Homo sapiens: one gene and its partners. The protein of the gene in region 3 interacts with the protein of the main gene of each other region in a pairwise test. Each region holds a gene or a part of one and is shown on either strand. Other genes may lie near its edges.

Region 1 (8,562 bases), on a different chromosome or scaffold from region 3:
GCTGGGGAGGGAGGGGTTAATGTACTCCCATGCCTAGTAGCTAAAACCAATAAAGCCCTCACTATGTGCCAGTCCCAGGGCAAAATGCTTTCCATGTTAACTCATTGAATCCTCTCCATAATCCTCTGAAGTGGGAACTGTACTACCCCACTTACAGAGGAGGATGTTAAGGCACAGAGAGGTTAATTAACTTGTCTAAAGTCACACAGTGATAAGTAGTGGACCTGGGATTTGAACCCAGGCAGCTGGGGCCAGAGTTAGTGCTTATAACCACCTCACATGGTGGCCACGTGAGAAGTTTGTGTGTGATATGGTGTGGCAGCATGGCAGGGTGGAAGTATCACGCTCTGTAGCCAGACAGACACACATTTCCCTCCTGCCTCCACCACTTATGGGCCCTGGGGTCTGCTGAGAACCCTCCACATTTGCTGTGTGACCTTGGGTGAGTTACTGGACTTCTCTGAACCTCAGGCTCTTCTTCTTATAAAGTGGGTACAAGATAGCAACTTGGTAGAATTGTGAGTGATACATGAGCTGGTGAGCCCCACGTGTTTGGTATATTACCTGGCACGCTGCCGGCATGAAATAAGTGAGAGATTTGTAGTTTTATTATATTTTATGTGGGTATAAACAGGATGATTTCTGAGATTTACATTCTACCTGTTCTATCTGTATCTCTCCCTTGGTAAAATAATGGGTTTCAGAGACTCATGGCATGTGCAAAGGTGGTATTTAGAGACTGTTCAATAAAATGGGGTAAGGAAGTCCCTTGCATTTCAGTTGTATTACCAAGGAATAGCAGCAGAAAAGATTTCAGGCCCAAACTAATAACATCGAAGCAGACTTAATATGAGGAAATTCCATTAAGGGCTTCGAATGGCAGTTCCTTCCAATATCCCATCCTGTGTTTTGTATCTTTGAAGAGTCTCAATAGGATTATATTAACATATGATATGCTGGTGGCAGGGACGACAGCTTTATCTCTGAACATACAGACAGAACAGACAGAAATATTAATGTGGCAGCCAGCGAGATGAGCCTGGTGTGCTGCTCTCTGCCTTTCTCTGATGGAATAATTTTACACTTAACTCTGTTTTCCCCTGTGTTTCTGTAGCTTGTGGAAGAGCGTGCTGTTTAAAAACTGATATGAGGCTTTTCTGCAGTAAGTTTAGAAAGCACTCTTTTCACTGAGCATGTACTATATACCAGGCAGCCTGAAACCACTTTTTACCTGCAACCCTGTGAGGTCAGGCATGTCTTCCCCACTTCTCATCAAGGCACCAGAGGCTCAGAGAAGTTGTATGACTTCCTTAGGGCCACACAGCCTGTAAAAGACAGAGTGGGCTTCGCCAGGCTTCTTCCATGTGATTGTCTCCAGTTCCTTCCTTTGTAGTTTGCAGATGGGGTCATCTTACTCTTGCTGATTGGACAACTTGAAGGCTTCTTCCTGCACTTAAAGGAATTCTACCTCACTCCCAACTCTCCTGCAGAAATGGTAAGTTTTCCAAGGATTTTTCTTTATGGTCTACCTCTAGGTGAACAGATATACAGAACTGGCATGACCAGTCTGTTTATTCACTTCCAGGTGAAGTGAAGGGTGTAGGGGAAGCTTATTTGTCTATATGTCTGCCTATCCATCCATCCATCCATCCATCCACCTATTCACCTATCCATCCATCTACCCATCCATCCATCTACCCATCCATCCATCCACCCACCCATCCATCCATCCATCCATCCATCCATCCATCCATCCATCCATCATCTACCTATCTATCCATCCCCATCTACCCATTATCTACCTACCTGACCGCCTATTAGCCCTCCTGTTCACCTACCAAGCCACCCACCATCTATGCACCCATCCATTTAACTGCCTACCTGTCCATCCACCTAACTGCCTACCTGTCCATCCACCTACCTGCCTGTCCATGCACCTATCTTCCTGTCTGTTTATTCATCTACCCAGTCCATCCATCCATCCATCCACCCACCTACCTGCCTGCCTGTCTACCCACCCATAGGAAGTTTATCTATATGTCTGTCTGTCCATCCATTCATTCATCCATCCACTTGCCTACCGGTCCATTCACCTGCTTGTCCTGTCATGCATCCATCTGTTTGTCCTTCAATCCATCTTCCTGTTCTGTTTATTGATCCACCCAATTTACCCATACACTTGCCTGCCCATCCACCCACCTGCTCATCCACCCATCCCCTACCCACACGCCTGTTCCCCCATTCCCTGAGGGCCTGTTTAGTGCCAGGCCCTGAACTGCATGGGATGTTAAGTTGATCCAACATAGCTCTTGCTTTCAGGGAGCTCTCAGTCTGTGCCCACTGTTCTCCTAGTGACGTGTGGTCTTGCAGGGCCACAGTGAAACGTGTTGGTTCAGATGCCTGGGTCAGAGGAGGGGCCTGGAAGAATGAGGGCTTAGAATAATCTCAAGGAGTCAGGAAGGGCATTGCATCAGAGGGGAGCCGGGAAGTTGATCAGGGATTGGTTTGCAGAGTTATCAAGGAAGGGCTTGCAGAGGGGAGGGAATAGCATCAGCAAAGGCTCAGAATGTGGCAAGAACAGGAATGGGTCAGGGAGGTGTAGGTGCTTCACTCTGGCTAGAGGGGCTGGAAGGGTGGGGCCTGACCTGGGGGGATCAGCAGTTCCCACGTGGACCCTAGAGGCTGGTGGACTGGCTGGGAGCTGGCTGCCTGCTTCCAGGCATGAGGGCTGTGGCTTGACCTGGGGAAGAGGGATGAAGAGAGTGATGGAGGTGGGGTGAGAGGGCAGGTGAGCCTGCAAAGATGCAGCTCCCACCGCCTCTTCCCCAGGTACAGCCTTCAGTGCCCGCTGGCTAGTCCTGCCTCCGCCCCCGCCAGGCCCCTGTGGTGTGTGCCACCACTTCCTCCAGCTCCCTGGGCTCTCCCATCTCTGGGCTTTGCCACAAGCTGTTCCCTTCCCAGGAGCACCCTTCCTACCAGGTAGGCCTGGCCCATGAGAAGGGATTTTACTACTTTCCAAATAAGGAAAGAGAGGTCCACGGGCAGCCAAGGCTTACCCCGGGTCACTGCCAGGCAAGAGGCCTGAGTCTTGTGCTCTTCGCCACCAGCTCCCTGCCTGCCTGGACCTCAGGTTTTCTGTCTCTGAAAATGGGCTGACAATCCCTGCCCCCTACTCAGGCCACACAGGTAGTAAGAAAGAGTTTGGAGAACCATCGAGGAGAAAGCATTGAGGGACATGTGGTCCCTAGTATCCCCAGGCTTGCCTCTCACAGGAGGTGACATTGGAGGCGTGCATCCCAAAGGACAGGCTGGAGTGTTGGTGGCTGGTGGCGTGCCCAGGATCCCGGGCAGCCAGCTTATCTCCATCCATGCCAGGGTTCCCGTGGCCTGGGGCAGGAGGACCTCTTTATCTCTCTGCAGCAGTAGCTTTTTCTAAAGAGGTGAAGCAGGAGGCAGGGCCACATGCCCCGTCCCAGGGCCAGCCTCTGGGGCTGTTTCTGGGAGAGACAAAGGCTTCCATCCCTTTCACATGCTCAGGGCGTCCTTGGCCCTGGATCAGGCCTCTTGGCCTATCTGGGGCCCAGTAGCAGGTGAGGTCCCCCCTGGACCCCTACCAGACTCCCCCTCCACCTAGGCCCTTCTTCTAGGCCGCTCCCCTTAACCTTCCTGGACACCCACCCTTGTGCCTCTCCCCTGCTTCAAGTGGAGCACCCAACTGCCAAGCCCCATCTGCCTCCCCGACCACGTCCCCTCCTCCCTTCCTGCCGACTCCCAGCCACAGCCACAGCCACAGCCACATGACCTCTGGCCCCCTTCCAGCTCTCCAGGGCCTGGTCCTCCCCCATTCCCTCACATCCACGCAGGCTGTGCTCTCAGCCCAGCCTACCCTGGCTTTGCTTCCCACCTGCTTCCCTGGGCGGGCGGCCAGCTCTGCCCACCTTCTCAGCTCCTCTGCAGTCCCTCGGCGCTCTGTGGGGCCCTGTACCACAGTCCACACTCCCTTGGGGTTAGCTCCCTGCACTTTGCCTCTCCTGGCCCTCTCCCCACTCACCCTCCCTCCTTGCCCCTGTGAGAGCGGGGCAGGGCTGCATCTCCATTTTACAGAGGGGAGCCCAGGGCCCGAGAGGCTTACCCAGTACCACCCAGCTGCTCAATGGCAGCCTCACACCAGCACAGCCTGCCGCCCGCAGCCTGCCATGTCCCTCGCCCCCACGGGGATGCATCTTGAGTGGGTGTGGCCTCCACCTTCCCTGGAGGCCAGGTGCTCTGGACTTGGTTCCCAAGAGCTGGGATGTTGGGTCAGAGCAACGAGGCCGGGGCAGTCAGTGTCTACGGTCCTGGTGGTTGTGGCAGGCACGGTGCCTGCTGCTTCCTAGGTTCTTCCATTCGGAGGAGCTGCATCAGCCAGCCATTGCCACAAACGTGCTGCTTAACAAACCACCCGAAAACCTAGGGGCTGAAAACCATGCTCATTTCTTCCCACAGACCGGCAGGTCGGCTGAGTTTAGCTGCTAGAGGCTCAGCTAGGCTTTGTCACTCCTCCGAGGACTGGATAGGGATCAGGCTGTCGTGGCTGGGTGGCTCGGCTCTGTGCCACAGCCTGCCATGTTCCTTCTGGGACCAGCAGCTGGCCCGGGCACGCTTTCCTCCTGGCAATGGCAGACACATGAGAGACCAGGCAGAAGGCATGAGGCCCTGGCTCAGAATGGGCAGGCTGCCACTTCCATCGAAGCAGGCCCTGTGGCCTTGACAGTGACATGGGACAGCCCTGCAAAGTGTGTGGGTGCAGAATTGGGCCGATGGTGGGATCTCCCACGGGCAGTGTGGACGAATGTGCTAGCAAATCCTCATGTTGGGTCTTGGAGTTAGGAACTCTTCCCATCCCCACTTCCACAGAGGAAACAGTTGAGAGAGGCACAGAAGTCTGGCCCAGAGCACACAGTGAGTTAGGGTCCTCCCTGTTTCCCTCCTGTGGAGCCAATGTGAGTCTCTGGGAGATGGAGGGGTGGCAGGGCTCAGTGGGGTTGAAGCCAAGGCTGAGACTGGGGTCAGAGCCTGCCTCGGGAAGGCAAGGCACTGAAATGTGAGCGGTGAGGAGAGAAGGCGGAGGAAGGGGGCAGGCAGGACCACCTGCGGGCTGAGGGCCTGGGGCTCGGAACCCAGCTCAGAGCCACTCTGGGGTGCCCCTGGGCTGCAGGGCCTCTGCTCAATCTGTTGCACCATCCAAGCCCCAGTTACAAGACGGGAACAAACGTGCAGACTTCCATGTTGCTGTGTGCAGCCGCTTTGCTGAATCCACTGATTTTAGAACTTACTTCTGAATATGAGTCAGATTAGATGTGGGGGAAAAGCAGCAGCCTCTTAGCTCAGACTCCAAGAATGAATTTTTACAGCATATTGTGGGCAATCTCTGCTGCAGGAATGTGTAATCAAAATGCTGAAGAGGTCGTCAGCTGAGGAGGGCGGGAACACCAGCCCTTGCTGAAGGTGGGCCTCTGCGGAATTGTTATCTTGGCAGAGTAGCCTCTTGAAATTGGATTTCTCATTATCAGACCCTCTTTGCTGATGGTGTTTATGTGAGATAGTTATTCATTGTGGGCACGGAAGTTAAGGATGGAGGGAGAGAGGATCATTCGCTCCCAGAAATAAAATCCCCGGAGCCAGGAATCCTTGGCGTCCTTCCACGTTAAATTACTTTCCCCAGGAGGATTTGCACGTATCCTCCCGGGTTGTAACCTTCTCTCAGCTCCGTGGAAGGTGGTAGTTTTATCTTCATCTCAAGCCACACGCGGAAGAAAAATCTCTGGACAGAGCATCATGAGATAGCTCTGGAGCCAGGGTCAGCTCTTACTGGGGGATGATCTTTTGTTCAGATTGAGTGTCATTGAGGAAGAGTGTGACAAACAGAAGCAGATGTCATAATTTTCAGTGTCGATAGCAATTCCCAAAGCATAAGCTCTATGAGGGCAGGAGGTCTGGTCTGTTTTGAGCACTGGTTGTATGGCTAGCACATAGTAGATGACAAGTATTTTTTTAAATAAGTGAATGAACGAAGTGTTTCCAAAACATTGGTCCCAGGAGGTGTTCTGTGACAAATGGGTTCTATGAATAAATAACTTGGGGAAACATGTCTAGTCTTGAAGGTTCATGCGGCCCACCAACACATTCAAGGCTCTAATAAGTCCTGCAGTGAAGGACTTCCATAGTATTTTATTTAATCCAACAATTTCTAAAAACGTTTGGCCACAGATATCCCCTTTCCTGTCCATCTTAGATCACAGTTTGGGAGATGCTGGCTCGCTGAATGTATCAAAGGCGGAGCTTTGAGGCAGGAGAGCACAGTGCGGAGTCTGGAACCTCAGGTTCCTCAGGGTCTTGTTCTCACTCCGACATTTACTCTCCATGTAACTGCAAATAATATTCGTGATGAGAATGCGAACAATAGCAACAATTGCAACCCTAGTTTCCCAGAATATTCCAGTCTAGGAGGAAGAACTGGGGACACAGTGATGGGAACTTCCGGTGATGCTCTGGTCTGTCCACTCGGAGCTTCCCATCCATCTTGGTCTGGACAGTCTCAGAGTTTCACCCCGCATTGGCCCCTGCAGCATGCTGCAACATTGGTGCCGTGTGATAGCCTTTGTTTCGCTCTTGTCACCCAGGATGGAGTGCAGTGGTGCAATCTTGGCTCACTGCAACCTCCGCCTCCTGGGTTCAAGCAATTCTCCTGCCTCAGCCTCCCAAGTAGCTGGGATTACAGGCACGTGCCACCACACCCAGCTAATTTTTGTATTTTTAGTAGAGACAGGGTTTCACCATGTTGGCCAGGCTGGTCTCGAACTCCTGACCTCAGGTGATCTGCCCACTTTGGCCTCTCAAAGTGCTGGGATTACAGGAATGAGCCACCGTGCCTAGCCTGTTTCTTCTTGTTGGCTGACTACAGAGGAGCGGCCCTGCTGCTGCTGCTGGGCACCCTGCCCATACACTCCTTTCCATCTGGGACCCGCCCTCCATCTTCATGTCCCCACGTGGAGAAGGACTCTGCTCACCCACTTCCAGCTCCTATGCCTTCATCATCCTCACCTTCAAATCTTGCTTTGTGGCTTCAATTCTGTGTCCGTCATCACATTGGACGCACATGGCAGCCTTGGAGAGGAAGGCAGACAGGTGTATCATCCCCGTGACACAGATGAGGCACCTGAGGCCCAGCCAGGATGTGTGACTTGTCCGAGGTCAGACACTTAGTGGCAGGGATGGGGGTGGCAGTACACAGACATCCAAGCTAGATCCCAAGAGTCCTCTTGCTCGGGCCATCCAGCAGGTGGCTGGAGGTGGCCTGGGCCAGGCTGGCGTTTCTGGATGAGTCTTGCCTGGCCTTGCTCATCCACCGCTCGGCCAACCTGGCCTCTTGGCCCCTGGCGGGTTGCCATGGGAACTGCCCTGTCCTGGTGGGGCTGGTGTGGCCAGGCAGATAGGGAGGGAACGGGACCAGCACAGCTGACCCCCGGGCTGGGATGTCCACCCCGTCTAGTGGATCTACGGGTGGCTAAGACATTGAAGGGAGGACCTGTTTGAGGTCACAGTGAACCAGGAGTTCATCCCTCTTCACCCACACCAGGCTGCTGCCCTAAGGCAAAGGGCTGGGACCTACTCTGCTTGTAGACGAGGCCCAAGGGAGAAGCTAGAATGGAAAGGGAGGGGACCTACTGTGGGAGGGCCGGCAGGCTCCTGGGCTCTCACCATATCCTGTAGCAAGGCACAGGGGAACTGTGGTGAGCCCACTTTGCAGGGGAGCAAGGGGAGGCCCTGGGCAGGGACTAAGCTGAGCTCTGAATCACTGGGGGACTTGACTGATGCCCGGGCGCTCTCCACCCTAAAGGGAGCCATCTCTGAGACTGCACCCCAGGCAAGGGGTGGCGGAAAGGACAGCCACCTGGGTGGGGACCGCTCCAGTCTCTAGCCTGCTTTGCATGAGCATTGGAGCGGACAGACCTGGTTTGAGCGCTTTCTGTCTCGTGAGCTCCAGTGAGCCCCTTGGCTCCTCTGAGCCTTGATTTCCTCACTGTGCTTTGCCCTGGGAAACAGCTGTTCTCAAAGGTGCTCTGCCACCCCAGGCCCTTGCTCCTTTCCCTGGGTAGTTCTCCCTGCCTGGCGGGACTCACCACCAGGCTTCACCTCCACCAGGAAGCCTTCCCTGATCCCTATTGGGTATCCTCCTTGGCGATTGCCTTTTTCACGGGCAGTGGCCCCTGGACGCAAGCGTGTGCCCAGTGTGGTATAGCACCTGCTCAGAGTGGGGCCTGTGAGTGGCTGAGGAATGAGACATGGATTGCTTGTGTGACAGAGTGAGCTGTAGGGAGATGCTGGATGACCACGGATTGTGGTCGTGGTCAGGGATGCCCACCTTGGATGGGAGTTTAGGCTCATGATGGACATCACAGACAACAGGAAGGGCTTGGCACTTGGGACCCAAGGCCTGGCCTGGGGCTGCTGCTTGTGCCCACATCTGATAGGGCCTTGTCATCATAGCTGCACAACGTCACCCTGGCGCTGGAGCTGCTG
Region 2 (4,588 bases), on a different chromosome or scaffold from region 3:
AAAGATCACCCAGTTGAATCATATTTTTTTTTGTTCAGAAGCAAAAACTGAGGCTCAGAGACAAACTGTCCTGTCCAAGATTATACAGAAAATGGTAGGAAGAGTTGAGAAGTTTCTCAATAATGCCATGACTGTTGAATCATAGGAACAAAAGCCAAGAGATGGATCCTTACAATAGTTTAACAATATAAACCACATGGAACATTTCAAGAAAGAGTTAAACAATGATCTATGTTTAAAAGCTATCTCTACCTGGCATAGTATCTCACATCTATAATCCTAGCACTTTGGGGGTTTGAGGCAGGAGGATCGCTTGAGGCTGAAGTGAGCTGTGATCGCACTACTGCATGCCAGCCAGGGTGTCAGAACAAGACTCTGTCTCTAAAAATAATAATCACCATCATCTTTCTCATTAGAACACACATGCCAACCATCCCCTTCTCTGGCTACATTTTATAGTCAATGAGTGCTGTACGCAACCAACAAGCTTGTAACAACACTGCTGTATCATTCTGCTTTTATTAGAAGGCAATGTAAAAGAGTATTGACCTACACAGTTAGGCCAGAGGTACTAGCCAATCTCCATCCTCCAAGAAAAATGATCTCCAGTGGCTCAGAGCCACCTCAGTCCCTGTCCAGAGGCCGTTCGCCTGACTGGGACTGGACTGAGGTGGGCGGGGGTTCCAGGAGGGCATAAGATTCCTGACGGGACAAATATGTGTGCCAGGGCTAAACAGAACTGGCTGGAATGTTTTTCTTACCTCCCATTTCTACTTCATTATGAAAATGGTGGACTGGGCAGCAGTGAATGGGTCGATCTTGTGTGTCAGGTTATGTAATTACATAAACGACTGTATTAGCTTTCTGGGGCTATAGTAACAAGTCAGCATGAACTCAGCATGAACTAAGCAGCTTAAAACAACAGACATTTATTCTTCCAGTTCTGGAGTCTGGAATTCTGAAGTCAGGGCCATGCTTCCTTCTAAGGCTTGTGGGGAACCTGTCCCATGCCTCTCTGCTGGCTTCTGCTGGTGGCCGGAGATCCTTGGTGTCCCTTCCCTTCCGGCTGCATCACTCCAACTTGCCTCTTGTCCCCTGGTCTTCTTCCCACTGCATTTGTGTCTATTACCAAAACTCTCTCTTCTCCTAAGGATGCCAGTCATTGGATTTGGGGCCCACCCTAATCCAATGTGACCTCATCTTGACTATATCTGCAAAGACCCTATTTCCAAACAAGGTCCCATTCACGGGGATGGGGGTTAAGACTTCACCATATATTTTGGGGGAACACAATTCAACCACAAGTAGCATCCAAACAGCCTGCTTATTCTGTTCTTGTCTAAGCACTTCTGATAAAAAATAAAAAAATACATGTACAGATGCTTTATCCTTTTGGTGCACTATAGAGTATATCCAGGGGAGGCCAGGCCAGCCCCGGCCCCATTCTCCCGAACAAGAAAACAAACTCAGCGATGTTTGCTCACTTTCCTGCAGGTCCATCTGTATTTTCATGCATGTTAAGCCTCTCATTCAATTTACATTCATGACTTCTGTTTTTCTATGTCTCTCATGTCCTGGTTCCAACATGTACAATAAGTGAGGTGTGTTTTAAGCATCATCTCAGCCAGGAAAGGCTTTTGCTACCATTCCAAAGCCAACATGAAACTTCGAAACTTCATGTCAACAGGCCCCTGAAACCTCCTGAGATGATACAGAGGGAGTGCAGGGGTCATATGATAGATATTCGTTTTCAAGTACACCTTAATTTCTAAAAGTTTTCCATTTCTTCATTTGTTTTATTTTATGTACATCATTAAGGTCATACCCTTCATGACAGGTACTTGCTGAAATTGAGACTCTTCTCCCTTTTGAGCAGAGGTCATTTTCTCTTGACATTGAATTCCAGTATTTGTGCAGAAAAGAGGTGTCAATGAGGACTCCATGGATACTTTACTTTCAGTTGATCAGTATTGGCTCTGCTGCAGGGTGATTTTGGCTTCACACATAAATGTTGCAGTGGCATTTGTCCAGGGGAAAGCCCGCTTGGAGGCTGTAGGATGACCCTGATGGAGGCTGTCACTCAAACAGCTCCAGGTAGTCAGGCAGCTGGTCCTGCTGACCACAGGGATAGAGAAGGAGCTCCTTCCCCAGGGAAGTGATGGGTTCCTCCTGTCAATCAGAAGGCACGGGGTCAGATAGTGTAAGTAGTGACCACATGCTCTTCCTACTTCCTCAGAGGACATCACTAGCTGCCTACCCATGATTTACACAAAGCTTTTGTGGTTTATGATCATCTTAAAAGGCATTTTTCTTATCTACATGTGACCAGGTACTCCTTTCCCTTCAGGGCTTGAATTCTAACTTAAGGCCTATGAATTCTCATAGGTCAGGGGTCCCCAACCCCAGGGCCATGGACCAGTACCAGTCTGTGGCCTGTTAGAACTGGGCTGTATAGCAGGAGGTGAGCAGTGGAGTGAAGCTTCATCTGTATTTACATCTGCTCCCTGTCATTCACATTATCGCCTGAGCTCTGCCTCCTGTCAGATCAGTAGCAGCATTAGATTTTCATAGGAACACAAACCTTATTGTGAACTGTGCATGGGAGGGATCTCAGTTGTGCGCTCCTTAGGAAAATCTAATGCCTGATGATCTGTCACAGTCCCCCATCACCTCCAGATGGGACTGTCTAGTTGCAGGAAAACAAGTTCGGGGCTCCCACTGATTCTACACTATGTTGAACTGTATAATTATTTCATTATATATAACAATGTAATAATAAAATGCACAATCAATGTAATGTGCTTAAATCATCCTGAAACCATCCCCCAACACTGAGTCCATGGAGAAATTGTCATCCAGGAAACTGGTGTCACAAAGTTTGGGGATTGCTGTCATATGTGATCCATGTGGGTACAGCTTTTATTTTTTTGTTTTAGCATTTCCCGTATTCTCTGCCCCAGTGGGGTTCCCTGAGTATTTAAGGAAGAACTAGGTTCTAAGATAAATGAAATGTGATTAACAATCCTGATTATCAGGAAGAATTATCAAAGACAAGCCCCCACCCCTGTCCCCTCCCCAGTACTTGTCTCAGTCCTTTTCTTTGTAATTGTCATTCATTGTTAGAGCTGCTACAGGACAGTAACTCAGAAGGCAAATTAAGTTTATGCATTGCTTCACCTTGTGATATTCCACCAAATCCGCCAAGGTGGCATGCTGTAGCTGGTCCACGCCCAGGAAGCTGTAGGCGTCTGCAGAGGCATCGATGAGGAAATGTTTACAGCCGTCCTCCGACAGATAGGACAGGGCATAGCCTTTGATCCTTTCACTGACTCGGATGAGAAAACTGCCGGGCATGCCTGTGCTCAGAAGAAGTTCATTTGCTTTCTTGAGTGTGAGAATTCCTGTGGCAAAGCAAAAAAAGGCAGGTATTTCAGCCAAATCATTCCAGAAAATCCCCTCTGTTAAATCCAGCTGCATGGATATAGAGTCAATGACGCCTAAATAAGACACAATAAGAGCAATTTTAAGTCTGTTTTGGGCTTCTTAGGAATACGGAATATTCTTCTGGTATTTGCTAATTAGACATGAACAGGTTATAGAGGCAAACTGTATAAAAATCATGTATAGAGGTATACATGAGAGCTTAAATGTCAACCTTAAAAGAAGAATATATTTCTGGGCCAGGCGTGGTGGCTCACGCCTGTAATCCCAGCACTTTGAGAGGCCGAGGTGGGTGGATCACGAGGTCAGGAGATCGAGACCATCCTGACTAATACGGTGAAACCCCATGTCTACTAAAAATACAAAAAATTAGCCGGGCGTTTTGGCGAGCACCTGTAGTCCCAGCTACTCAGGAGGCTGAGGCAGGAGAATGGTGTGAACCCAGGAAACGGAGCTTGCAGTGAGCCGAGATCATGCCACTGCACTCCCTCCAGCCTGGGCAACAGAGCAAGACTCCATCTCAAAAAACAAAACAAAAAAAAAAGGAATATATTTCTACTTATACACCCATTTAGAGCAACACACAGGTGTTAGACGGTTTATAAGGGTCTAACAGAACGCCTTGATGGTCATCCTGGGAATGTTAGATCTGGGAGGGGATTTAAAGATACTCTCCCTAGGCTACCTCAGTTTACCAACAAGGACTCAATGGCCTGGGGAGTGATTTGACTTGGTCTAGGACAGTGGTTCTCAACCACTCGGACAAAGGTGTCCGAGAGACATCTTTGGTTGTCATGGATGGAGGATGGGGTTAGAGGTCAGGGATGTTGCTAAACAGCCTATGAGACACAGAACAGCCCCACACTGCAGAGAATTATCCAGCCCCAGATAGCAGTAGTGCTGAAATTGAGACTCCCTGGTGTGGGAGGCTCAGTAATTTAGTGACAGAGCCAAGTCAGACTCAGTTCTACTCAGTTCTATAAAGTACCTTAGCCTGTAGCTATTGCTAAATGACACTACACTGGCATTTAAAGGAATAAAACTATATGTGTGTCTTTATATACACATATGAAGTTATATATAGACATAGCTTAGATGCCTCAGGAATTCACACTCTTACTCCAGACCAGCCTTTTCCCCAGTTAGT
Region 3 (9,383 bases):
CAAATTGTGGTTTTAGGAATATTTCATGGTTTATGTCCCAGGTTTGTGAGCCTTACTTATTTCGTCTTTCTTCAATGTTAATGATAAACCCTTGCACAGCATCCTTGATTCTTGCTCGCACAAGGCTGTCCAAAATCTTGCAGTCATTGTGCTGGTCCCACTCAGCTTTCAAGCGATCCCGCTCACTTGACTTAATGGAAGCCAAAATAGCATTATGCTTCTGATGGCTGCGTCGGATTCTTTCTAGATGGTGCTCAGCTCCTTGGCCTTTAGGAGGCTTGGATCTCTGAAAACAAAAACCAACTATCACTTATAATAAGCCAAAGAATCAACTGCATATTTTCAATTAGTTATGCTCTCAATCAATACTCATACTAAATAAAATTGGGTATAAAAAACTAATACATCCTACTACAACTGAATACAGCTTATGCACCTAAAGAGTAACTTGTTTCATTCTCTGAGCCTATACCTAAGATGTCATCAAAACAGTCTCAAATATTTCTAATGTGCCATTTGAAAAATAGTTGATGGAAATTACAAAGTTAAAAATGTGAACAGGACTCTGTTGAGATTGTCTAGTCAAACCCAGAGACATTAAGTGATTTGCTGAACTTGCTTCAAATAGGGCAGATAAAACAAGAATTAGAGGTCTTCTAATTCCCGACCTTGACATTGCCACTCATTATTCCACATTATTTCTCACGGTTGGACACCATAGTTATCACATCAAAATACTTTCAATGAAAAGGTGCTACTATGCGAATATATAGAAAAAATATACATGTGTGTATATACATGTATATGTGTGTGTGTATATATATGTGTATATGTATATGGATATATAACGAGTTGTGATAATGAAAGATCTTTGACTAAGAAGGAAGAAATGAAGTGAGGGAGGAAGAGAGGAGGGAAAAGAAAAAAAGCTGGTGGTAGAACTTTATTCCTATTTCTATGGTGCCCAGAAGTTTTAATGCAAAGAGTGTGTTCCTGACCTTTTGGGCTACTTTGAATTTCTATAAATGTACTGTTTTTACAGAAATGTCCACTAAAAAAGTTAGAAATGCATGTACCATTTGAATATATATAGATACACTTAATGAAATCACATAGCCTATATCTTTTTCCTTTCTGTATTCCTAGCATTGAACATAATGCCTACTACAGTGAGGTCCTCAATAGAAATGAATGAATGAATGAGTGAATGAATGAAACAATGTTGCTGGGTGGGCTTGATGCAATTTCTGCACCTCCTGGAGCCACCATAAAATCCATAGTCTTGAGCTTTGTATTTTCAGGAACAGTTTTATCAAGTCATCCTTAGGTAAGTTGTGAGATACTGGGGTGCTGATTCACAGAAACAAAACTCTTAAGAGACAGAGAGTCAATCTGATCTTTTACATTTAGAATATCACCATCAGGATTACCAGAATACTAGGGTTAGGTGTTTGTAATGAAGTCTCCTGAGGAAAGAAAATCAACATTTGAAGACAGTTTAATGAAAAGATTCAGGGCTCAGGGTACACATATAGGTACCTAGATTTAGCTGAACAAGATAAGGCAAGCCTGGGGTGGTAAGGAGACAGAAGATGATGCTGGGGGTTATATCATGGAAAGTAGCTAATCCATGTCATAATTATCTGGAGCCTAGAGCCAGCTAATTAGATGACTGTTCTCCAATACAGTTGGCATTTTATGAATATAGATCTGTGAAAATAAAGCAGAGGAGGATCACAGTGGCACCCTTGGCAGCATACACAGCAGGAATTAAGGGTCCCAGTGTGAGCTGAGAACAGGAATGAAACACCAAGTAAATCTAGAAACACTGGCTCCAGTTGTCAGGACAGGAAACAGGGCTGAGGGATATTTTGGCTGAAGAGGTGACAAATACCATGAGCAGTACCCAAGGGGTCAGGAAGCCTTTTAAGGCTTGGGAATCATGTGAAGGACTCTGGTCTGGGAAGGACCCAATCTCTTGATAAGTTAGGGGTATGACCTGGAGTTCTCAAAAAAGGTGATGCCAATCCCAGCACAGTCGTGGTATTGTTCAAAGTCTGTACTGTTCAATATAAATATAATGCAAAACAGATATGTAATTCTAAATTTTCAAGTGGCTGCATTTAAAAAAGTAAAAAGAAACAGGGGAAGTTAATTTTGATAGTATATTTTATTTAACCAATATATCCAAGATGTTATCTTGTCAATATGTGACTCTAGGCACATTTCAAGTGCTCAAATGCTATGTGTGACTAGTGGCTACCTATTGGACATCACAGCTCTAAACCATGCTAAAGTCAGGAAAACACAGGATATTTTACTAACTACTGTGGGTTTTCAAGGTCACTGAAGGCTGTTATTGTAGCATCTCCAGTTATAGTTATTAGGATTACAATTTACAGTTCGGTTGTCTTAAAGAACAATGCTTTACATCCTAGGTTTGATTCTGGCCTCTGTCCATTACTAATTGAATGGAGCAAGTTACTTAATCTCTTTGAATCTTAGTTTTCTCACCTGTCAAATGAGCAAAATAAGTATCCTCCTAATGGATTCCTAGGAGACACTCATCAAATAGCTGCTCCTTTTGATGTCCCATTACTTCAGACATTAAATTTTTCACAGGTTTCTCCTGGGGAATTGTTTAGGGTCCAAGTCTCATCTGCTGGTGGCTTTAATTCTTGCAACACAATTCTGCTACCTCTAACATCTATCTTTCTTATCACACTCAGACACCGGAGGAGCAGATGCACCAACTCTAACCTCCTCCTTTTCCTCTTAATTCTTCTTAGGTGCAAAGTATTCAATAAGCCCGCTTCTCTGGTTTAGTGTTTTTGTTTGTTTTCTGTTCCTTATTGGTTCCCAACACAAGTAATAGCACCCAACAATGGCTCAGCCCCTGAGCCCAGTGTTTGGATACAGAACCCAAAGTAGATCTTCTGTCCTTCATGAAGTGTGTTTATAATTATCACCTTGAACCCTACAGCCTACTTATGTGTCCCATCTACTGCTTTCCAGCTCCAGATCTTACAGTACTTGGACCTAAAGAAGGAGCAGGTCTATAGGTTGACTGAAGTTTGCTATGTGCACTGTGGAGCATAATAAAACTGTATCACTGATCTTTCATCCATCAACTGACATCACAGACAATATAGCACATCATTATTTACCGTGCTAACCTTTAGTGGTTTCATTCTACCTAAGTTTTTTTTTGCAATTGGATTACAAGTTGAGCACCCCTAATTTGAAAATCTGAAATCTGAAATGCTCCAAAATCTGAAGCTTTTTGAGCACCCACATGATGACATAAGTGGAAAATTTCACACCTGACCTCATGTAAGGGGTCACAGTCAAAACACAAGCAAACAACACATATTTATTCAGCATCCCCAAGGGGAAAATAAAATTACCTTCGAGGTAATGAAATATAAATAAATTCTGTGTTTAGACTTGGGTCCCCTCCCCAAGATATTGCATTATGTATATGCAAGTATTCCAAAATCCAAAAAAAAAATCTGAAATCCTAGACATCTCTGGTCCCAAGCATTTCAGATAAGGGATACTTGACTTGTATAAGCTCCTTGAAGGGAGGGCTCAGGCTTCAATAAAGAGTTAACCTTCCAGGATCATTGTATCCACCCCTGTATCTCCCACAATACTGCGCACACAGCAGGGGCTCAAGCAATAACTCTGCCTACATGTTAGTTTTCTGGTGGGTAGAAACTAATTTGTAGAAACAAAAAAATCTACATGTATGGACCAATAGTGTCTGAGGTTCTCAGCAGGAACCATCAAATTCTGCAGCAAGCACATTTTCCTGGCCTACTACCACTCCAGCCTTAGAGGCAGGCACCTGAGTTTTTCCCAGGTCTGAAGGGACACTTCTGTCCAGCAATGGTTACTGGTTGAGTTGGCACAGGAAAGGCGTTGGGTGCTATAACCACTCACAACCTAATTCCCCTTCCTCAGACGATTTTCCTAGGAGTGAAAGACCAGCTCCAAATCATAGGCCCGCCCTGCCCCCAGATCTGTCTCTGGGCCGGGTGCCCTTTCCATAACACACACTCGCCACTGCATGGGGGACAGACATCCTTCCGGTGTCTTGGAGACTGAAAAACCCTAAGATCCCTAGTGGTGATTCTCCAAAAACAGAACCTAAATATTATAACTTTGGGGGCAGATGAAAGGCTGTAAGGATGAAAACAGAGGGAGATGAGTGGGTGAGAGGTGGGGTAGATAGGTGAGCGACCTTATCTTCCTTCTTTCAAAATTCAACCCACTGCATCAGGCGACACCCGTTCCCCTCGAGAAGGCCCCGGGTGGGGGCCGAAGTGGGATAGGCCAGGCCTGGAGTGCGGAGAGATGGAGAAAGCTGTAGGGTCTGGCAGACATATCCTGTGCTTACCACGATCACCACTTTGGGGGTGGGGCCCTTAACCTCCCGCTGTACGGTGCCAAACCGCTGGCTGTACATTTTCGAGTCCCCTTCGGGACGGGGGCGGCGTCCGCCGCGTTTCCCCCAACCGTGGCGACCTGCGGGACCCGCTTCCGCGACGCAGAAGTCTGGTTGCCATGGTGCGCCTCGCGGGATTAGGGGCCGGTAGAGGTGGGCGGGTCGGGCGGAAGTCGGTCTGGTCACCATGGGGGCCGCAGACGCCTGCACTCGGGACTTCCTCTTCCAGCTGAGAAGCTGAGCCTGCGCAGTCCTCACCCCGCCCCTCGGCCAAATCCCGCCGACCTTGCTCCCTTCCTCCAGGGTTCATCAGAATGGCAGAAAAAACCTCTAGCCCAAGAAAAATCAAAGCTCTAATTACAATTCCAGTTGACTTTGCTATTTATATCTTGTAATGGTCTAAAAGTATGAAAAAGGTTAGCGAACATTTTTTGGGAAGCTTAAATTTTGCACTATCTGTAGGTTAATCTTGATGACGGTAATAATCACAGGAAAACCTTATATTTGTGTAGTTCTTTACAATTTCCAAGATATTTTCACACACACAGCCTTTTAACCTCACAGATTTTTTCTGAGACAAGGTCTCGCTCTGTCGCCCAGGGTGGAGTGCAGTGGCGTGATCATGGCTCCCTGCAGCCTCGTCCTCCTGGGCCTCAGCCTCCAGAGTATCTGGGACTACAAAGCCTGCGCCACCACGCCCTGCTAATTTAAAAACAAATTTTGAAGAGACAGGGGGTCCCGCTATGTTGCTCAGGCTGGAACTCCTGCTCCTGGGTTCAAGCGATCCTCCCCACTGCCCCTCCCGCCGGCCTCCCAAAGTGTTGGAATTACAGGGTGCGCTACCGCGCGTGGCCGCAAATATCTTACAGGGTTGATAGAATAGCAAGTAATACTATCCTTATTTTCCAGCTAAGGCAAAGCTCAGGGAGCCTAAGTGCCTTGTCAAACCAAATAACCAGTAATAATAATAATTTTTTAAAACCTGTTAATAAAATCTTCCTATTTGCCATTGGCAGAAACCAGGGCTTAGACTCAGGATATCCTAGGATGGGGGCAGATCAAATGGACTAGTGGGGCAGTGGCACGACCTGGTGGAGCATAATTAAGAGTCTGAGGGTCACAGTGGACCAGGGTCAGGATGTGGATCAGAAGTCCAGTAACTGGTTTCTGAGAATCAGGATCCAGGCAGAACAGGAAACACAAATCAGGGAACCAGGACGGACCTGCAGCACAGGTGGTAACCACAGTTGCATTTCCAGTCAAGAGCAAGGTGGTAATACCTAAAAGCCAATTAAGAATGACACTGTGATACTCCCATTCTAAAGTGGGGGTGAGCATAGAACACTTGTGAGCACATGCAACAAATCAGTACCTACGTCAAACTGACATATAATAAGTACAACTAATGTGTATGCCCTCTTAAGGACGCAATTTACTGTAAATTAGCATTCCTTAATCATTTGTAAACCACCCACTTCGGATTTTGTATGTGGTATGTTTCTAAATACGAATTCCATTTCCTGAATTGCTGGTTCAGCTTTTCAGCCACGAAATAATGTTTTTCTTCTCTTTTAATAATTCTGTCATTTTGTGTTCTTTTCTATAACGGTTCTTTCAATTGCAGTTCAGTAAAATACGCATTTGCATTTACTAAGAGTTTACGTGGCCTGAAACAGAAAACAAACAAATTAGGTGGTCGTCTCGGTTTCCTGGAGTGTCCAGAGGGGCGGTTCTTTGATCTTCGAGTCCAACGGGCTCCGGGCCCGCCCGTCGGTCCGGGCGGAACCACCCCCACCACACATCCTCCGGGAAGGCGGCAATGAAAACGCCTTGGGCCCGAAGTACGGCTTGGGAAAATCGGCGCAGATTCGGGGCCGCCCGTTGGGGATTCCCAAGGTTGTGCAGCCCAAAGGGCCTCGTCGGAATTTCTGAGGCGATGGGGTAAACCGACCCTTGGCGACACCCGGCCGCACTCGAACGTCCTAGGTCGTCGAGCCCCGCCCTCACCCTGGGCGAGCTCCGAAATTTAACCCCGGTTCGGTTTTGCCTGTTTTACCACTATTTGAAGAGGGGGACTCAGCTTCCCTCTGGCCCTAGCCCAAGTACTGGGGTTTGCGCCGGACGGAGACCACGCCCCAGGGCGGCCAGGCCAGGGGTGATGGGTGACGAGCGGTGCCTCCAGGGCCCCGGTGGGTGACTGTGGCTGGGAACTACGGGCTTTCTCGCCCCGGCGCCCCCTGGCGGACCCACCAGCAGGTTGAAGGTGTCCGGCCAGTGCTGAGCACCAAGAGCCTCAGCCTTCAGCCAACCCCCCGCCCCCGCGGCCTAGGTAAGTGAATCGCTCAGGGTCCTTGGAAAGAAGTGACCTTGATTTGATCTTCCCACCCACTATCCCAGTTTCTCAGAGGCAGTCAACACTGTTCCCACCAAACCACTCCCAAAAGAAACACTAAGCATGTAAGTAAGTGGGACAATAAAAATTTAAAAATAATTTTAAAATAGAACAGCTTAGAGATAGAAACTAAATTATTTCCAATTCCTACTGTGCCCCAAACAAGGTTCACAAAAGGGCTGTCCTCCCAACAATTTTCTGAATTCTATATATTCAGCATTAAATTCCATGATAAAGTTGGAAATCCATTCACCATTTGTAATACATATTGATGCATTTAATAAAATTGCATGGGCCGTATCTTTTGCATTTCTGTATCCTAGTATTAAGTACAGTGCCTACCACAGGCCAGGTTCTCAATACTTGAATAAATGACACAAAAATAGCCAGGACCAGCAAGTTTTTTCTGGGTGGGCTTCATAGAATCTCTGTACTTGCTGGAATCACCATGAAATCCATGGTCTTCAGCTTTGCATTTTCAGCCACATAGTTATATTGAGTTATCCTCAGGTGAGCAGTGAGACCCTTGGGAGCGGATTCATGGTAGGGTGGCTTTGTAATGTGTCACCTTGGTGAGGCTATGTTTCCCGGAACTCTCTTCCAGTAAGATGGGCCACAAGAGACATTTTGCTTGATAACCGGAGGGCGGAAGTGAAGCAGCAGCACATTGTTTTTACACTTGGAAGGTTGGTGCTGGGGCACCAGGCGTTGTTGCAGTTCACACGTTGCCATGTATCTGCTAGATCACCTCGTTGGTGTGGGCAGTAGTCAGGCCTGCAGCCAGGCCTGCAGCTGCTCCACCTTCCCCAGGATCATCCTTTCAGCTTCTCTAATTCCTGGGCCAGATGCATATTTAACTCTGTGAGGAAGGGCACCAGCTTCTTCTGCAGGACACCCACATCATCGAAGCTGGAGGTGGTGAGAGACTGACATGGGTTCCAGGCCATCCTCGTGGGTTCCAGCTCGTGCTCGTGGGCTCCACTGTGTCCTCGGTCTCCCACACTTTACATCCATCTTCCCTTCCCGAGTGCCTGCCCTGCAGACTTCAAGCTCCAGCATTAGATGCAAAGACAACAGCCTTACAGAGACTGTTTAACCAGCTCCCACAATGGCATGCGGTCAGATCCCTATAATAAATCCCTTAAAATACATATATACATAATCTTTATCTTAGTGGTTCTGCTCCTCTGATTGTACCCTAACATAAATGGTCAGCAGAAGCTTAACTCATGAGTCTAAATGTCAATCAAATAAATTTCATATAGATCATTGTCAAAATTACCAGAATACTGGGGTTGGGTGGTTGGTTCCTGGGGGAAACAAAGCAGTATCAGTCTATCCAGTCTTGACTAGGGCTGAACTAGTTAGGATGGAATAAAGGAAGGGGTGGGGAAGGTGGCAGAGGCTGGACTGTATGAGACAGAACTGGGAAATGGCTAATCCATGTCTGAATTACTTAAAGCTGCAGGGCTGGGACTAGGGTAAGGCAAGGGAGGCACACAGGATACAAAGTTTAAGGAGGCACTCACTCAGTCCTGGCCCTGTAAAGCTGGCTAACAAATTACAGGTCTAATCTTTTTGGCACTTTATGAATGAAGAATTGGGAGAGAGTGAGGTAGGGCTGAGCCAAGACTGGCTCTTGGGCAGGACTCGAAGCAGGAATTCAGCCTCCTAGAACACATTCAGGCTGAGGGCAGGAGCCAAGCACAAAGGTGATCACAGGGCAGGAGATGCACGTTGTCAGGAAAGATGAGCCAGGCTGGCAGCTTTAGTTACAAAGACTGCTCTGGCTGAAGAGGGGGAGTCAGGGTAACAAGCAAAATGGACAGCAGCCAGTGGGGAGATATATCCTGTAGGGTTTGAGGAATCCTATGCAGCACCTGGGGTCTGCAGGAAACCCAGTTTCTGTATGAACAGATGCTCTGACAAGGTGACCCCATCTACATTGAGCCTTGGCACTCCCTAAACCATGCTAGAGACAGGAATGTAAGGGATTTATTATAGTAATTATAGTAATCTGTGTTTTCAAGGTCACCGAAAACTCCTGTTAGTGCATACAGGATTACAGGTTACAGTTTAGTGGAGTAAAGAACAAGGGCTTTAAAAGCTGGGTTTGAGTCTAGGCTCTACTAACACCAGCTGTTCGACATTGGACAAATTAATGAGTCTCAGTTTTCCCATCCACATAAATGGACAAAATCAATGTCTTCCCAAAAATATTATTTTAAGGATTAAATAAACTGGGTCCACAGAGGAACACACCAAATAGCAGTTCCTTTCCTTATTTATTCAATTACATTTTCAATTGCTATCTCCCTGAGGAAGTATGTAGAGACACTGCCAGGTCTCATCCAGAAGCCACTTACAATTACTCATGAACATGGCTTGTTTAGGTTGTTTTGTGGTGGCTTTAATTATATTACCTTTCTCCAACCCAGCTCCCCCACCCTTAAAATCCAACTTCTTATACTCAGGCTCTTGGGGAGGAGAAGATGCACCAACTTTCTACTCTTTCTCTTCCTTTCCCGCTTACTTCTTCTA
Region 4 (8,562 bases), on a different chromosome or scaffold from region 3:
TTTTTTAATAAATGAAATAAGAAAATAAATAGATATTATTTTTTAACAACCCGTTCCTTCTAGAGTCTCAAATAAGTAAAAACTAGAGCAATAGAGAAATATGCGTAAGACTTTGACCCATAATAGTGATAGAAATTAGGTTTGTGAAAGTTTCCACCCGTGAGTGGTATGTTTCCCTGCTATCCAGGGACGGCCCAACAGGAGAGTCTAGGTCAGTGTTTTCTGGTGTTTTACATTCTGTGGGACATTTGTGATTGGCCAGATTTGACCTGGGTGGGGTGGGTGGGGGTGAAGTAGAGTGGAGCAGAAAAAGAGAATTTTTCTGATGTTGAAACTCTTATTTTTAACTTTTTTTTTTTTTAAGACGGAGGTCTCACTGTGTTTTCCCAGGCTGGTCTTGAACTAGCCTCAAGCGATCTTCCCACCTCAGCCTCCCAAAGTGCTGGGATTTCAGGTGTGAGCCACTGCACCCAGCCTCTGGTGTTGAAACTCTTTAGGGGTGTAGGAGAGTAAAGAAAAAGAACCAGCCTGGACAACATAGTAAGACCCCATCTCTACAAAAAATAAAATTAGCTGGTTGTGGTATCACGTGCCTGTTGTCCCAGTAACTTTGGAGGTTGAGGTGGGAGGATTGCTTGAGCCCGGGAGGCAGAGGTTGCAGTGAGCAAAGATTGTGCCACTGCATTCCGGCCTGGGCAACAGAGTGAGACCCCATCTCAAATAAAAAAAAAAGAAAAAGAAAAAGAAAAGAAAAGAAAAGAGAACAGCCCTAAACCCAACGTTAGTCAATCTGCAAAAAAATTATTTTGTTTAATGACTACCTATCAAATGTATTATGAGGTTGCAGAGCTTGGTAAGCAAAGGGAAAAAAGGGGAAGAATGTATTATGAGATATAAAAAATGAATTAGAAAAAATTTAATGAGTTAGGAGACCATGAGAATCAGCCAAGGTATAATAATAACTAACTAATTATTGTGTTTGGCAGTATTCTAAGGACATCATTGTATTACCTTTTTAAATCTTGACAAGAACGGATGAGGTGGGTATCAGCCACATTTTACTCTCAGGACGATTGAGGCACAGAGAGGTTAAGTAACTCACCAGAAGTCACACAGCTGGAAACGGTCTCAACCTTTACCCACTGCCTCAGGCAGCCTCTGAGTACTGAGCAGATGCTGGCATTGGAGTTAGAAGGCATTTGAGGCTTACAGCTGGGCATGTACATGGGCCTTGTGGTCTCTGGGAAGTTGTCTAACCTTTCTAAGCCTCGGTTTCCTTATTGTCAAATAAACATAATACTTACCTGGCTGATTTATTGTGGGGATTCAATTAAGCCCAATATGCCTGAAGGCATTTTGTAAACTGTGGAGCACTAGTTCAGTGATTATTGTTATAATCTGACTGGGGAGACGAACCCGAGACAGCAGAAGTGTGAGCAATCAAGCAGGCTGTGATTAACTCTTCCTTAGAGGGATAGATGTGGTACTAGGTAATGGGATAATTACCAAGAGCACGTGGATAAAGCACAGGCTTTGGGGTTGGGAGCCCTCCCCGAGGACTGAAGCACATCTTGTAGCATGAGTTAGTGCTTGCTGGGTGGAGGAGGGGATGGGGCATTCCAGTGACAGAAGAACATAAATAAAGAGACATCTAGACTAGGCAGATAAACTTCCCAGCGGGTGCAGTGGAGACTCATTGGCTGGGGTAGACAGAGAGGCAAAATTGGCCACTCCCTCCTCTGAACTATAGCAGGGCTGGTGACCTCTCCTAGTTCCTGTGACCTTGTGCTGGCATCATTTCTCTCTGTGGCCCCCATTGAACACTGAGCTTATTGAGGGCAGGTCTGTGTCTTGCTCTTGCCTGCATCCTGAAGCTCATGGTTAGTGGTGAATGGGGTCAGCAAGGGAACCCTGGGCCTAGGTGGGTAGTTCAGCCCTGGGCCACAGGATATATTAATAATTACTTTATTTATTTTTATGTAAGAGATGGTCTCGCTCTATTGTCCAGTCTGGAGTGCAGTGGCACCATCATAGCTCAGTTTTGCCTGGGACTCCTGGGCTCAAGTGATCCTCCTGCCTTAGCCTCCTGAGTGCTGGGACTACAGGAGCATGCCACCATGCTTAGCTGATCTTTAAAATTTATTTATTTATTTATTTATTTATTTATTTATTTATTTATTTGAGACAGAGTCTCACTCTGTTGCTCAGGCTGGAGTGCAGTGGCGCCATCTCGGTTCACTACAACCTTCGCCTCCTGGGTTCAAGTGATTCTCCTGCCTCGGCCTCTCGAGTAGCTGGGATTACAGGCGAGCGCCACCACGCCCGGCTAATTTTTTGTATTTTTAGTAGAGACAGGGTCTCACTTGTTGACCAGGCTGGCCTCGAACTCCTGACCTCAGGTGAGCCGCCTGCCTCAGCCTCCCAAAGTGCTGGGATTACAGGTATAAGCCATCGTTCCTGGCCTAGAATTTTTTTTGTAGAGATGGGGTCTTGCTGTGTTGCCCAGGCTGGTCTTGAACTCCTGGGCTCAAGCAGTCCTCCCGCCTTGGCTTCCCAAAGTGTTGGGATTACAGGTGTGAGCCGCCGTGCCCGGCCTATAATTACTTGTTTTCTTATAATGCTCCAGGGTCGCTGTTGGTCTAGCCTTGCCTCCCGCATACCCAGTCTAGAGCCTGGCCACATGCCCATCAAAAGACTCTCACTGCTCTGCCTGCCTTCTTCTGTCCTGGCGTCTATACCCTCAGACCAGCCTTGCATACCTACTCCTGCCAGCCTCCTCCAGGAAGCCTTGCCTCCTCAACTCTCCTGCACCATCCTCACATTTCACCTGGCCACTGTCACTGCCAGAGGAGGCACCACTGACCTGCCTCATGGCCCAGCCACTGCACCCATCTCCAACCAGACCCTTGGTGTGTTCCCCACCCAATCCATCACAAGCCACTTTCAAGCTTTAGGGAAGTGAAAAGTACTGCCTGCCCTCAAAAAAAAAAAAAAAAGAAAAAGAAAAGAAAGGAAAAGAAAAGAAAACCCAGCCGTAATAAGGAGACCTTATCAGGAGTACTTTACAGTTTATAAAGCATGTTTCTAGCCATCATTGGGACCACACGGTGGTCAGTCATTATCATTTTCATTTTATGGATGAGGACATCGTGACTCAAAGAGCTTGGTAACGTGCCCAGGGTCATCCCACGGGTGAGTGGAAGGGCCAGGATTCAAAACCAGGACTCCAGGTTCCAAGTGTCAGGCCCGTTCGACCACACTGTCCTCCCACCAGCCAAGAGGGCAATTCTGGAATCAGCCAGGAGGGCTGTCAATCACAGGACAAATAAAATAGTCTGTTTTTACTTAGCTGGAAAATGGTTTTCTCCATGGTTTGTTTATTTCTTCAACATCCGTTTAGTGAGCACATACCGTGGAGGAGACACAGAGATGAGTAAGATAAAGAGACCGGCTCTGGGGGGCTCGTGAGTCAGCAGGGAGGCAGACTGGCCACTGCGGGGCTCCTGGACAAGCCTTGGGGCTCTGATGTGGTCAGGCCCCGAAACACCAGCATCACCAGGGCCATTAGGATGTTGGGCACCACCCAGAACTACTGAATCAGGACTTGTCGTGTTCACCACAGCCCTGGGTACTCTGTGTACGCTGATGTTTGAGCAACAGTGCTCTGTAGTAGGTGAGTTCTGGGATTAGAGGAAAAGACACAGAGTGGGGAACAAACCTTTAGAGAGTCAAAATCTCTTTGGGTGAGCCGGGCGCAGTGGCTCATGTTTATCATCCCAGCATTTTGGGAGGCTGAGGCGGGAGGATGGCTTGAGCCCAGGAGTTCGAGACCAGCCTGGGCAACATAGCGAGACCCTGTCTCTACAAAAAAATCAAATCAAATCAAATAATTAGCTGGGCATGGTGGTGCTGCCTGTAGTCCCAGCTACTCGGCAGGCAGAGACAGGACGATTGTTTAAGCCCAGGAAGTTGAGGCGGCAGTGAGCCGTGATCACACCACTGCACTCCAGACTGGGTGACAGAGCCAGACCCTGTAAAAGGAAAAACAACACAAAAAAAGCCAGAAACAAACAAAAAAAGTCGGTGGATAGCGCATACGTCAGAGCAAAGGATCTTAATGCATCCTGCGTTGAGAAGAGCCTTAGATCCTAGAGAGAAAGAGATAGAAACAAATATTTATTGAGGGCCTGCTGGGTACCAGGAACATGCTGGGTGATTTATATCTATGATTTCATTTTAATAGCTCAGGCTCAGAGAGGCTAAGTGACTTGTCCAAGGTCACACAGCGAGTGAACCGAGAAGCCAGGACTTCACAACCAAATGGCAAAGTCCTTTTTTTCATGTTTACGTTGCGGGTACTTCTGCCCTCTTGCTCATGATCTTAAGCAGATGCTCAGCCTTAGTTCAGCAGCTAAAAAATTTTAGGGCTGGGCTAGAAGGATCTGCGGTTCTCAACCCTGGCTGGAGAGCTCTTTGAAAAAATAAAATACTGTTTCTCTGGGCCCCCTGCATAAGGATTCTGTCTCATTGGTATGGGGTGATCATTGACATTTTGTAAAGTCCCAGGTGGTTCTCATGTGCAATCAAGATGGTGACCGTGGGTCCTGATGGGTTCCCACACCCCTGGCACCCCACGGACTTTGGGTGGCTCAGTTGGTTCTGGTTATACTCAGAAAACCAAGATGGCCCTAAGCCTGCTTCCTGCAGGTAAGAAGCATCTGTGTCAGGTTTGTTCTTTAGGAATGCAAATGCTCAGAGCCAGGCTGTGTAGCACCCTGAGCCTTGAACCTGGCGCCCCACCCCTTCTGCTTCTGGAGCAGGTGCACAAAGAAGTCACCCCTTGCCTGAAGTCTGAGCAGGTGCCTTCTTGCAAGGAGAGCTGCTCGTGAACCCCATTTTTCCATTTACTTGACAATCAGAGCTGGCGTTTTTTTTTTTTTTTTTTTTTGAGTTGGAGTCTCTGTCACCCAGGCTGGAGTGCAATGGCGCCATCTCGGCTCACTACAATATGTGACTCCTGGGTTCAAGTGGTTCTCTCACCTCAGCTTCAGGAGTAGCTGGGATTATAGGCGTGCGCCACCATGCCCAGCTAATTTTTGTATTTTTAGTAGAGACGGGGTTTCATCATGTTGGCCAGGCTGGTCTCTAACTCCTGACCTCAAGTGATCCGCCCACCTTGGCCTCCCAAAGTGCTGGGATTACAGGCGGGAGCAACTGCGCCTGGCCCAGAACTGGCTTCTTAAACTTCTGTACCCTTCTATCTCCCCAACCTTGCTCCTTTAGTGGGTATTGAAAACTTAAGAAGGAAGTTAAGAGCTTTCTTTTGGTCCCTGGTTTTGTACTGTCCTGAGTTTCTTCCCAGTGATGGTAATGGTAATCGTCAACATTTACTGACCAGGCATGGTGGCTCATGCCTGTAATCCTGGCACTTTGGGAGGCTGAGGCGGGCGGATCACTTGAGGCCAGGAGTTCGAGACCATCCTGGCCAACACGGTGAAACCCATTCTCTACTAAAAATATAAAAATTAGCTGGGCGTGGTGGTGCATGCCTGTAATCCCAGCTACTCGGGAGGCTGAAGCAGGAGGATCGCTTGAACCCGGAAAGTGGGGAGGTTGCATTGAGCCGAGATCACACCACTGCACTCCAGCCTGGGCAACAGAGAAAGACCTTGTCTCAAAAAAAAAAAAAAAATTACTGCCCACATACTGTGTGCAAATGGTAAAGGCCTTACATGAGCCACCCTTTTCGATCCTTGCAACACATGTATGAATTATAATTCCTATTTTAGGCTGGACACGGTGGCTCACACTTGTAATCCCAGCACTTTGGGAGGCCGAGGCGGGTGGATCACCTGAGGTCAGGTGTTCAAGACCAGCCTGACCAACATGGAGAAACCCTGTCTCTGGTAAAAATACAAAATTAGCTGGGCGTGGTGGCGTGCGCCTGTAATCCCAGCTACTTGGGAGGCTGAGGCACGAGAATCACTTGAACTCGGGAGGCAGAGGTTGCAGTGAGCTGAGATCGCGCCATTGCACTCCAGCCTGGGCAACAAGAGCGAAACTCCGTCTCAAAAAAAAAAAAAAATCCTATTTTACAGAGGAGGAAATTGAGGCTTTCAGGGGTTGATAGCTATGCTCTCTGTTTGTCCTTCTGTCACTGCCTGGCACCCTCTGCTCTCTTCCTCCTTATGCTTGGGGTCCCCAAGGCGTTGTCCTCACCCCACTTCTCTTTTACCTCCTGTCCACTTCCTTTGCCCTCACCTCTGTCTGATGGTTTCTGTTCTCACTTCTGTGGCACTGACTCCCCACATCTCCCTCCTGACTTCCCAGCCTGAGTGACCACTTCCCACTGGACAACTGTACCCCCTCGGGCGGCCCCATGGCAGGACAATGGTCCCCACCTTCTCTCTGGTGTCAGTTCTGAGCCCTCCCTCCTTCCTGCCCTCACAGCCGCATTCTGTTGAGTGCCTCTGTGAGACTTGTCTCACCCATTCATCCTGTGAATCTTGCATTTCCTGCTCTTATTACATCTTGCCTGGATTTTTGTCATCTCATCCTGCCTGCCCTCTAAATCACCTGTTCTGGACAGTGTCCCTCAAATCCAACACTGTGATTTTTGTTTGTTTGTTTGTTTTGTTTTGAGACAGAGTATCGTTCTTGTCAACCAGACTGGAGTGCAGTAGCGCGATCTCGGCTCACTGCAACCTCTGCCTCCTGGGTTCAAGCTATTCTCCTGCCTCAGCCTCCTGAGTAGCTGGGATTACAGGCGCCTGCCACCATGCCCAGCTCATTTTTGTACTTTTAGAAGAGACTAGGTTTTGCCATGTTAGCCAGGCTGGTCTCGAACTCCTGACCTCAGGTGATCTGCCCACCTCAGCCTCCCAAAGTACTGGGAATACAGGCGTGAGCCATTGCGCCCGGCCGCTTTTTTGTTTTTTAAGAGATAGAGTCTTGCTGTGTTGCCCAGGCTGGAATGCAGTGATGCGATCATAGCTCACTGCAGCCTCGAATTCCTGGGCTCAAGTGATTCTCCCACCTCAGCCTCCTGAGCAGCTGGGACTACAGGTATGTGCTGCCACACCCAGCTAATTAATTTTTTTTTTTTTTTTTTTTTTTTTTTTGCAGAGACAAGATCTCACTACGTTGCCCAGGCTTGTCTCAAACTCCTGGCCTGAAGCGATCCTCTCGCCTCAGCCTCCCAAATTGTTGGGATTATTGAGTCACTGCACCTGGCCCAACAATGCTTCTTCTTTTTTTTTTTTTCCTGTTCTAGTTTCTTATTTTTATTCACTTGTTAGAATTTTGGTTTTTTTTTTTCTTCTGTTTCCTCTACACTTTTTTTCCTCAACTTTTAAGTTCAGATGGTACATGCGCAGGCTTGTTACATGGGTAAACTGCATGTCACTGAGTTTTGGGGTATGAATGATCCTGTCACCTAGGTAGTGAGCATAGTACCCCATAGGTAGTTTTTCACCCCACTTCCCCCCACCATACTCCCCCTTCACTGACAACTACTTTTATAACTGCCCTTTTTCAAAAACTTTTGCTGCCTTCTCTGAGACCCTGCCTGATATGGCACCATCAGGGTCCCTCGTCCCTGGTCCCTGGTCCCTGTCCTTTTTTTTTTTTTTTTTTTTTTGAGACAGAGTCTCGCTGTGTCTCCCAGGCTGGAGTGCAGAGACCCCATCTCTGAAAAAGAAGATTAAAAAAAATAAAAATAAAGGGTTGGTGCTGCACGTTAAGAAGGATGGGGCGTGTCCCTATGGCCCAGGAGATCAGATTCCCTGCCCCACTTGGGCACTGAAAGGGTTCCCCCTCTGGCACTTCTGCAAGGCACTGATGAAGACTGTTTTCTGCTCCCCATTCATTGGCCCACTTATTCCACTGCCTCAAGGCGAGGTGTGGCGGAGACCTGGGTGTGGCAGCGGGCACAGCCTTGTGCAGTGGGCTGGCAGCCAGCTCTCCTCCTGCATCAAGGAGGGTTGATGACCTGGAGAGATGCCCACCTGGGAAAGAGAACTTGTCAGCCCCACCTCCCGGCAGGGTGGTGGCTGTTTCCTGTTTTCCTGCCTGGGCAGCCAGGGAGGAGCTCTGTTCCCAGTGTGTGGGCAGGACTTGTGAGGGGAGAGGGACCGTGATTTAAGGTGTCTGCTGGCTCAGAGGAAGAGAGAATGGCATCTTTTCTTGGATCAGAAAGGTTGCTGCTGCTGCCTCTGCTAATACTGCCACAAGACAGCTCAGGAAGCCAGTGTGGCCTATGGCTTGTGTTTAACACAAGTAACACTATCGTTTAAAGGCATGTTGACACATTACTCCTTTGAAGCCACAGAGCAAGCATGCAGTAGATGGTTGTGGTCAGTTTTCAAATACAGACACTGAGGCTCAGAGAGATTAAAAGACTTGTTTGAGAGCACTCAGGAAGTGGCAGAACTGAGGTTTGAACCTGGCTTGTCTGGCCCCAAATTTTATACTTTCTTTCTGTATCTCCCTTTAAAGCGGAAGCCGGGTCAGTGGCTTAGATATGTGTGACTTAGAAAAGGTACAGACATTTATTTTGCTAAG

What was found.
Region 1: the proteins of CFAP53 (region 3) and PARVG interact in binary tests that used the Homo sapiens proteins (3 or more experiments, as listed by UniProt).
Region 2: the proteins of CFAP53 (region 3) and SH2D4A interact in binary tests that used the Homo sapiens proteins (3 or more experiments, as listed by UniProt).
Region 4: the proteins of CFAP53 (region 3) and HIP1 interact in binary tests that used the Homo sapiens proteins (3 or more experiments, as listed by UniProt).

The regions. Positions count from the first base shown.
Region 1 is NC_000022.11:44,197,228-44,205,789, forward strand, and holds part of PARVG (gamma-parvin), read left to right. Parts: intron 1-1,114; coding exon of another isoform or gene 1,115-1,138; exon of another isoform or gene 1,139-1,340; intron 1,341-1,393; coding exon 1,394-1,495; intron 1,496-8,529; coding exon 8,530-8,562. UniProt on the Homo sapiens protein: Plays a role with ILK in promoting the cell adhesion and spreading of leukocytes.
Region 2 is NC_000008.11:19,392,131-19,396,718, reverse strand, and holds the end of SH2D4A (SH2 domain-containing protein 4A), read right to left. Parts: intron 3,402-4,588; coding exon 3,178-3,401; intron 2,170-3,177; coding exon 2,077-2,169; 3' UTR 501-2,076; downstream 1-500. UniProt on the Homo sapiens protein: Inhibits estrogen-induced cell proliferation by competing with PLCG for binding to ESR1, blocking the effect of estrogen on PLCG and repressing estrogen-induced proliferation. May play a role in T-cell development and function.
Region 3 is NC_000018.10:50,261,934-50,271,316, forward strand, and holds the start of CFAP53 (cilia- and flagella-associated protein 53), read right to left. Parts: upstream 4,563-9,383; 5' UTR 4,472-4,562; coding exon 4,403-4,471; intron 287-4,402; coding exon 57-286; intron 1-56. Other genes in the region: MBD1 (methyl-CpG-binding domain protein 1), read right to left, coding at 7,696-7,885. UniProt on the Homo sapiens protein: Microtubule inner protein (MIP) part of the dynein-decorated doublet microtubules (DMTs) in cilia axoneme, which is required for motile cilia beating.
Region 4 is NC_000007.14:75,727,865-75,736,426, reverse strand, and holds part of HIP1 (huntingtin-interacting protein 1), read left to right. Parts: intron 1-8,562. UniProt on the Homo sapiens protein: Plays a role in clathrin-mediated endocytosis and trafficking. Involved in regulating AMPA receptor trafficking in the central nervous system in an NMDA-dependent manner. Regulates presynaptic nerve terminal activity.